Linked DNA regions of Homo sapiens. The protein of the gene in region 1 purifies or fractionates together with the protein of each later gene. This does not show direct contact. Each region holds a gene or a part of one and is shown on either strand. Other genes may lie near its edges.

Region 1 (3,821 bases):
TAGAATTAATGACAGTCAAGCACTTTTGCCTATGTGGTCACGTACTCATCATATATAAAGTTTTAAAGTATTAGGTTGGGTATGGTGGCTCATGCCCATAATCCCAGCACTTTCGGAGGCTGAGGCAGGAGCATCACTGGAGGCCAGGAGTTTTAGACCAGCCTGGGCAACATAGCAAGACCTCATCTCTACCAAAAAAAAAAAAAAATTGTTTTTTAATTTGCTAGGTATAGTGGCATGTGCCTGTAGTACTAGCTGCTCAGGAGGCTGAGGTGGGAGGATTACTTGAACTCAGGAGTTTGAGGTTACAGCGAGCTATGATCACGCCACCATACTCCAGCCTGGACAATAGAGTGAGACCCTGTCTAAAAAAAAAAAAAAGTAAAAATATCAAACAAGTCATTTAGCCCAACAACAGAAATAAAAACAGAAGAAATATTTTCTCCAGTCAGGTATTCAAAGTTCTCCAAGCCCGAATTTATACCATATTCCCTCAGTCTTCAAACTGACCTGTTCTCCCCAAGATAGCATCACCACATCCTCCTATCCTCCCATCCTCCTCTGAATCTCTTTGAAAGCTGGCTTGCCCATGGGAGCACTCTATTAGGGAATACGCTCTGTAGTTAAAATTAGCCAAACCTAGCCTCACACAGGCCATGACTCCACAGCACCATGAGGCTAGATAACACAGGTAGTGAGATTTAACTAAAGGCAGGCTGCAATTATGACAGACAAGCCTGCCTCTCTTCTGGAAAACAGCAACCATTTCTATGCATACAAAGAGACAAAAATCACACACACGTGAACCTACCGCTTCTCATTATGCTGACCCCACAATTTCCCTTCTCAAATTTCACTCCTTCATACTTGTACCCTGTTAGGAAATAAAACCAAAGAATTTATCTTTCATCACTGGAGTAACCTACATATTTTATAAAGTGTCTACGGTTTAAAGTAGATGGGCACAAAGCAACCCTTGTTCAGACACACTGTATAATGCCTGAGATTCCCTGTGGAAATAATGAGATGAGTCATGATTTTTCAGTTATTTCTTAATTCTTCATAAGAAACCTGTGGGGATAATTGGGAGAGGCAGACTTCATTGAATGGGAATAGGACTTATTATAACACGATATTCACATACACATTCCTCAAACTGAATTCAAAGAGAATCACTGCACTCTGAGAATGCTATATACCCCATCAATTCAAACTGGGACCCCACTGTGAGCCACAGCAGAAAGCTTCCTCATTCCATTCTTCTTTATGAGCCTCTGTTCTTCTTTATGAGCCTCCATTCTGCCTTAAAAGCAGAAGAAAGTGGCTGAAATAGTTATTAAGACATGCTCAACTCTTGGTCTCATCCTGAATTTGTGTCAATTATGATGCTACAAACTCAGTCCCCAAGTTTCATAAAGTAAACCCTTTGAATAGAACAGTTTTACGTTATTTACTGAACCAAATCATAATTTCAAATCCCTGAAACAGGGATCTTTGGCTACTTTCTATTAAAGGATAGAACAAAGCACCTTCTCCAATTCTTATCATTTTTAGTTTTCTTTTTTACTTTCTATCCTTTTTTAACATGTAATTTCAGTGCCAAAACAGACTTGCCCATTTGTGCTCACCAGCAGCTTTCCCATAGAGATGAAGATAAGCTGCCAGCAATTCTTAACTATGGTCTCAATGGGCCATCATTAGAGGCAACACGTGCATGCTGAAGAGTATTTGTTAACCTTTAACTTGAATTGACAAGCAAGCCCTTAACAAAAAGTCATCTACACAGATTTCTTTCCTAAATGCCTGAGTTTTATTTTTAAGATTTTAAAAGAATAGCTCCACCTAGCCCTTCATTTTGCATATTTATTTTACTTAGACTGCTTTACTTACATCTTTCCCCATTCTAGCTCAGAATTTTTATGAGGAAAATTTGAGAATAACAGCCCTAGTTACCTGTTGGAGTGGTCACCATGCATTCTTTATATGGCAGCTGATTCAATCCCTCTTCCACAACAAGTCTGATCTAGAGAGTCAAAGGAAGAAGAAGTTGAGAACCTGCTGGGAATCTCCTGTTAGCTGTTAGCTTCAGGAGCTGAACAGTAGGCAGAGTCATGAACACACTAGGCAAAGGTTTCACTTGTGGAGGCAGTAAGGGGCCCCCTATCATGTGTTAGATACAGGGATAGATCCAAATGCCATACTACTTGCTGCTAGGTATCCAACCTCAGATAGGCCATGATTGTCACCAAAAGGCTCCAATATTCCTTCTGATTCTCATTCTGTCAGTCCAGACTATGAGGGACACAAAACTCCAGCAAGTGACAACAGTCATGGCAAGCACTCTTGGAAGTAATATACTTCTTATTATTCTGGAAATAGTGCTCACTGGGAATTTCTCTGCTTTATTCAGTACCTTGGAAATCATTAAGTCAGATTATTTTTAACAAAGGCCCACTATAATGTAAATAAAGCCTGAAACTTCTTTAGAGGAAATAAATGAGTGCATTGGCTGAACCAATTTACTGAGCTTGAAGGAGGATCCAGTAAAATGCACTGGGGCTTCTCAGCTAAAGAAAAGGCTCATATCAATCATAATGTGTGGTACAAAGGAAAGCATCACTCAGAACTACTACAAGAGCCTCCAAAAACAAGATATGGTAATTCCATGAACAACCAAAGCCAACTACAGTAAAAGTAATGCTGAGTCTGCAATGCACATTTTATCCAATCAACATTACATTACTGATTGAGAATCTGCAACAGCAGGGAGCAGCACCAGGCCCTATGCTCTGTTATCACAACATATAATAACACCCTGCTGCCATTAAAACAATCAATTCTAAATAAGCCAGGATTTTGTCAGCCTGCAGCATCAGACAGAGGGCCCAGGCACCTCATGAATACTGCACATGTGTGCATACTCACTTCCAGCCACCATCTTCTGTGGAGATTTTTTTTTATGAGCAAATTACAAGGGTAAAAGAGGATTATTTTCTTTGAAGAGCCTAGATCTTTTCCTCCTAGTAACAGTCCTCTAATGAGTCTTACCTCCTATCCCCATCCCCTCCAACACTGGGACAGAAATTAGTGTGCCCAACTCTTACAGGAGTGCATAAAATCAGAAGAGTGACTAAAATATAAAGAACCCAAGGATCTGAGGGCCAAGGAAGCCAACCCTGACAAATTCAGGATGAAATTAATATATATATGATAATATATATTAATGACATGTGCTGCAGGAGATAGTGTACTAGAAATCCTCAAGAAGTTAAACCTAAATAGCTCCAGTCTCTACCACAACCACAACAGACCCTTTCTCACCCCATATCAGGACCTTGAAAGCCACCTGCAGAGAACAGAGAGAGATCCAAATCATTATCCCCTCAGGTGAATTATGCCATAGGTCCTTACTATCTCACTGGGCTAAGATTATGCTTGCCCTTTCAGGGAAGCATCTTACAATAACCGTGAACTTAACTCCTACTTTCTATAGAAAAAGAGCATAAGAACAGCAAAAGAAAGAGGAACCGTTTTCTACCAGTAAACACCAAAACAGCAGCCATTAAGATACAAGTTCTTCAAGCCTGTTCTTTTGGTTTGATAAAAGCATAAAAGACAGAATGACGTAACTATTGCTCCAGGAATGTCAACCACATTTATCTTGTTACTATCTAAGGGTTATTACTGCCAATGAAAACTCAAATAATTTTAAATAAAATTGGTCTCTGAACCAAGAATACTTACGATGAAAAGCAGAACAGGAGTTGTCTATGCTCTTTTGGAATAAATCCTCAGGCAAAACCTAAATGAAAAGTTTCATG
Region 2 (3,821 bases), on another chromosome or scaffold:
CTATCCCTCTACCAATACCACGGTCTCAATTATAGCTATCTAATAAGTCTTAAAATTGGGTAGACCAGGCCGGGCGCAGTGGCTCACGCCTGTAATCCCAGCACTTTGGGAGGCCGAGACGGGCGGATCGCGAGGTCAGGAGATCGAGACCATCCTGGCTAACACGGTGAAACCCCGTCTCTACTAAAAATACAAAAATTAGCCGGGCATGGTGGCGCGCGCCTGTAGTCCCAGCTACACGGGAGGCTGAGGCAGGAGAATGGCGTGAACCCAGGAGGCGGAGCTTGCAGTGAGTCGAGATCGCGCCACTGCACTCCAGCCTGGGCCACAGAGCGAAACTCCGTCTCAAAAAAAAAAAAAAAAAAAAAAAAAATTGGGTAGACCAGTTCTTCTTACTTTACTCTTCTCAAAATTGTTTTAAATATATTAGTTTCTGTACATTTCCATATAAAATTTAGGATAGTCTTATCTATACCTACAAAAAAATCTTCCTGGGATTTTGATAGGGATTATTTTAAACTTGTGTATCAGTTTGGTCTCCACTGACACTGCAAAACTTCATTACTGGTCGGTTGGTTGGTTTGAATGTCCAGGATCCCTCCAGGTCCTTCTCTGATTCTACACTAGTGGAGTGTGTTGGGGTGCTTGATTGTAGGTAGAAGTCCAAGCTCTCCCCACTTGGCCTTTGTAGCGTGCCTGGGGGTGGGATTACAGTTTTGTGTGTGTGTGTGTGTGTGTGTGTGTGTTTGTGTTTGGCTGGAGTAGAATGATTATTATCTAAAACTTTTCTGTCTTCCTAGGCTGCCCTTTGTATAGTTCTTTAACGAGAAAGCAGGCTTTTATTGGGGGGTTTTATTGTTGGCATCTCTTGCCATTTCTGATTGCTGGGATCTTTAGTGAGCTGTAGGAGGCAGAAGAAAACCCAAGGAACTCATCATATTCCTTGGGTCCTGAGGTTCATAGCCAGTCTGCCTTATGCTTGTTTTATATATAATGTCCAGAGTTTTATTTGTATTTTGCTGGCGGGGCAGGGAAAAATGTGCTTATCTTCTTGCAAGCTGTGTCCACATTTTCTTCTTTTAATTATAAAAATTTTGAATATTTAGAAAAGTCGTATAGGATAATGAACATGAACCTATCTAGTTTCTAGTTTTAAGAGTTGTAAATGCTTTTCAGTATGTCTTAATCTATTTTTTCTTCTTTTTTGAGATGGAGTTTTGCTCTGTTGCCCAGGCTGGAGTGCAGTGGTGCACTCTCGACTCACTGCAACCTCTGCCTCCTGGGTTCCAGCGATTCTCCTTCCTCAGCCTCCCAAGTAGCTAAAACTGCAGGTGTACACCACCATGCCTGGCTAATTTTGTACTTTTAAAAGAGATGGGGTTTCACCATGTTGGCCAGGCTGGTCTCAAACGCCTGACCTCAAGTTATGCGCCCACCTCCCCAAAGTGCTGGGATTACAGGCATAAGCCACCCAAAGTGCTGGGATTACAGGCATAAGCCACTGTGGCTAGCCAGTCTATTTTTTCTGAGGTCCTTTTAAAGTAAATTATAGACATAATGACATTTCACTTCTAAATATTCAATATGCATCTCTAAAAAATAAAATTTTTGAATATAAGGACAATACTTTATATCGAATGATTTATAATAACTTCTTCATATTATCTAATATCCAGCTTATATTCTGATTTCCCTAGTTATACCCAAAATTTCTTATAGCTTGACAGACAAAGAAGAAACAATCAAGAACATGAACTGCATTTTGTTGTTAGGCTTTTACGCTTCCTGTTATCTGAAACAGTTCCTCTCCTACTTTTTCCTACTTGACATTGATTTGTTGAAGAAATAGTTCCTGTTGAACCTTGGAATGTCCCATTGTCATTAGGGTTTTGTCTGATTGTTTCATTGTGTTTCTTTTTTCAATATACCCAAGATAGTACTTCATCCTTGTGTTTCTTTATCTCTTGTATTTTCTATAAATTTGAAGTTAGATCCAAAGGCTTGATTAGATTCAAATTTGGTGAGAATATTTCATAAATGATGCTACGCTAAGCAGATTTTCATAAGTTGATTTTATTTATAACTTTTATGTGGTAGAGAATATGCCTTCTGCATCCTGTGATACACTACTGGATGACATCGAAGATATCGTGTCTCAGGAAGATTCAAAACCACAAGATAGGCATTTTGTAAGAAAGGATGTTGTCCCGAAGGTACGAAGGCGAAATACCCAAAAATATTTGCAAGAGGAAGAAAACAGTCCACCAAGTGACAGGTAAGCTTTTTTCCTTGAAATTATATTCATTTTCTTTTTTTTTCTTTTGAGACAGAGTCTTGCTCTGTCGCCCAGGCTGGAGTGCAGTGGTGTGATCTCGGTTCACTGCAACCTCCTCCTCCTGGATTCAAGCTATTCTCCTGCCTCTGCCTCCCTAGTAGCTGTGATTACAGGCACACACCACCATACCTGGCTATTTTTTGTATTTTTAGTAGAGATGGGGTTTCACCATGTTGGCCAGGCTGGTCTTGAACTCCTAACCTCAGGTGATCTGCCCACCTTGGCCTCCCAAAGTACTGGGATTACTGGCCTGAGCCACTGAGCACGGCCGAAATTATATTCATTTTCATTCCAGGGAGAAGCTGACGCTACTGGTCTGTGTGATATATATAATGTCTCTTCATTAGAATCTTTGAACTTTTGATAGGAAATACAAGTTGAGTATCACTTATCTGAAATGCTTGAGACCAGAAGTGTTTCAGATATCACATTTTTTTTTTTGGATTTCGGAATATTTGCATTACATACTTTCCAGTTGAGTATTCCTAATCCAAACATCTGAAATGCTCCAGTGAGCATCCTTTGAGTATCATTTTGGCACTCAAAAAGTTTCAGATTTTAGAGCATTGTGGATTTTGAATTTTTGAATTAAAGAAACTCAACCTGTATGTAGATTTTTTTTTTATTTGAATGATTTTAAATTTGGCAAGGTAATTGGTTAAAAAGAAATGAGATGTCAAATTGGATGTTCCTAGAAGATAGCCTCGGGCAATAGGGATCTCTTGGGTATTACTGTAGTTGATATGTAAGTCTGTGTTATTTCCAAATAAAATTTTTACCAGAGTTTGTGATTCTTATGAGACAGTAGTATTTTGGACATTTGAATTTTCTTAGCTGATTTTCAAATACCTGTGGATCAGGTAAAGGCAGTGGGCACAAATAAATTATTGCCCTATTTACGCTATTATAGTAGATCTCTAGTCCGTGAAATTTTGATACAACCTAACCAGAAAGGATAATGTAATTATATGGTTTTAATAAGCCTATATTTGTTTATCTAGTCAACTGCTGAACTTTATAATCTGCTTATTTTGTTGGGAAACTAAGCTTTTAAATTCTTGGAATTTAAAATTTGCTTATATTTTAATGACTGAAGTTTATAAAATTTGTCCTAAATGTGTCCTTAAGGTAATTTTTATTTACTTATAAATTATTAGAGCAATCCAAGTTGAAAGTCCTTTTTTCCCCTAAAAGTTATTTTTAGAACTCTGATTTTATAGAGTGCTTTTAATAATGCTTTAGGATGACGGTTTTTAACTTTGATTAAGTTACTTATATCTGTAAGTTTTAAGGAAGCTACAGATTGCAACTAGTATGTAGGAATCTGTAAACAGACATACTTTTCTTTATTTGCCATTGCTGCTAGAACCACTTTCTTTCCTATTGTTATTTTTGTGTACCTTTCCAGGAGTTGAACTTAGTAAGTTAGTAGTATGAATTTAAAATGCAATTCAGAGAAAAAGGATATTTTTTTATGTGGAGTGTT

The links.
Region 2: the proteins of UPRT (region 1) and CDKAL1 purify together in Homo sapiens (affinity purification with mass spectrometry; one large-scale study listed by BioGRID and IntAct). This does not show direct contact.

The regions. Positions count from the first base shown.
Region 1 is NC_000023.11:75,294,544-75,298,364, reverse strand, and holds part of UPRT (uracil phosphoribosyltransferase homolog), read right to left. Parts: intron 3,803-3,821; coding exon of another isoform or gene 3,745-3,802; intron 3,347-3,744; coding exon of another isoform or gene 3,318-3,346; exon of another isoform or gene 2,024-3,317; coding exon 1,954-2,023; intron 875-1,953; coding exon 812-874; intron 1-811.
Region 2 is NC_000006.12:20,544,249-20,548,069, forward strand, and holds part of CDKAL1 (threonylcarbamoyladenosine tRNA methylthiotransferase), read left to right. Parts: intron 1-2,090; exon of another isoform or gene 2,091-2,097; 5' UTR 2,098-2,102; coding exon 2,103-2,275; intron 2,276-3,821. UniProt on the Homo sapiens protein: Catalyzes the methylthiolation of N6-threonylcarbamoyladenosine (t(6)A), leading to the formation of 2-methylthio-N6-threonylcarbamoyladenosine (ms(2)t(6)A) at position 37 in tRNAs that read codons beginning with adenine.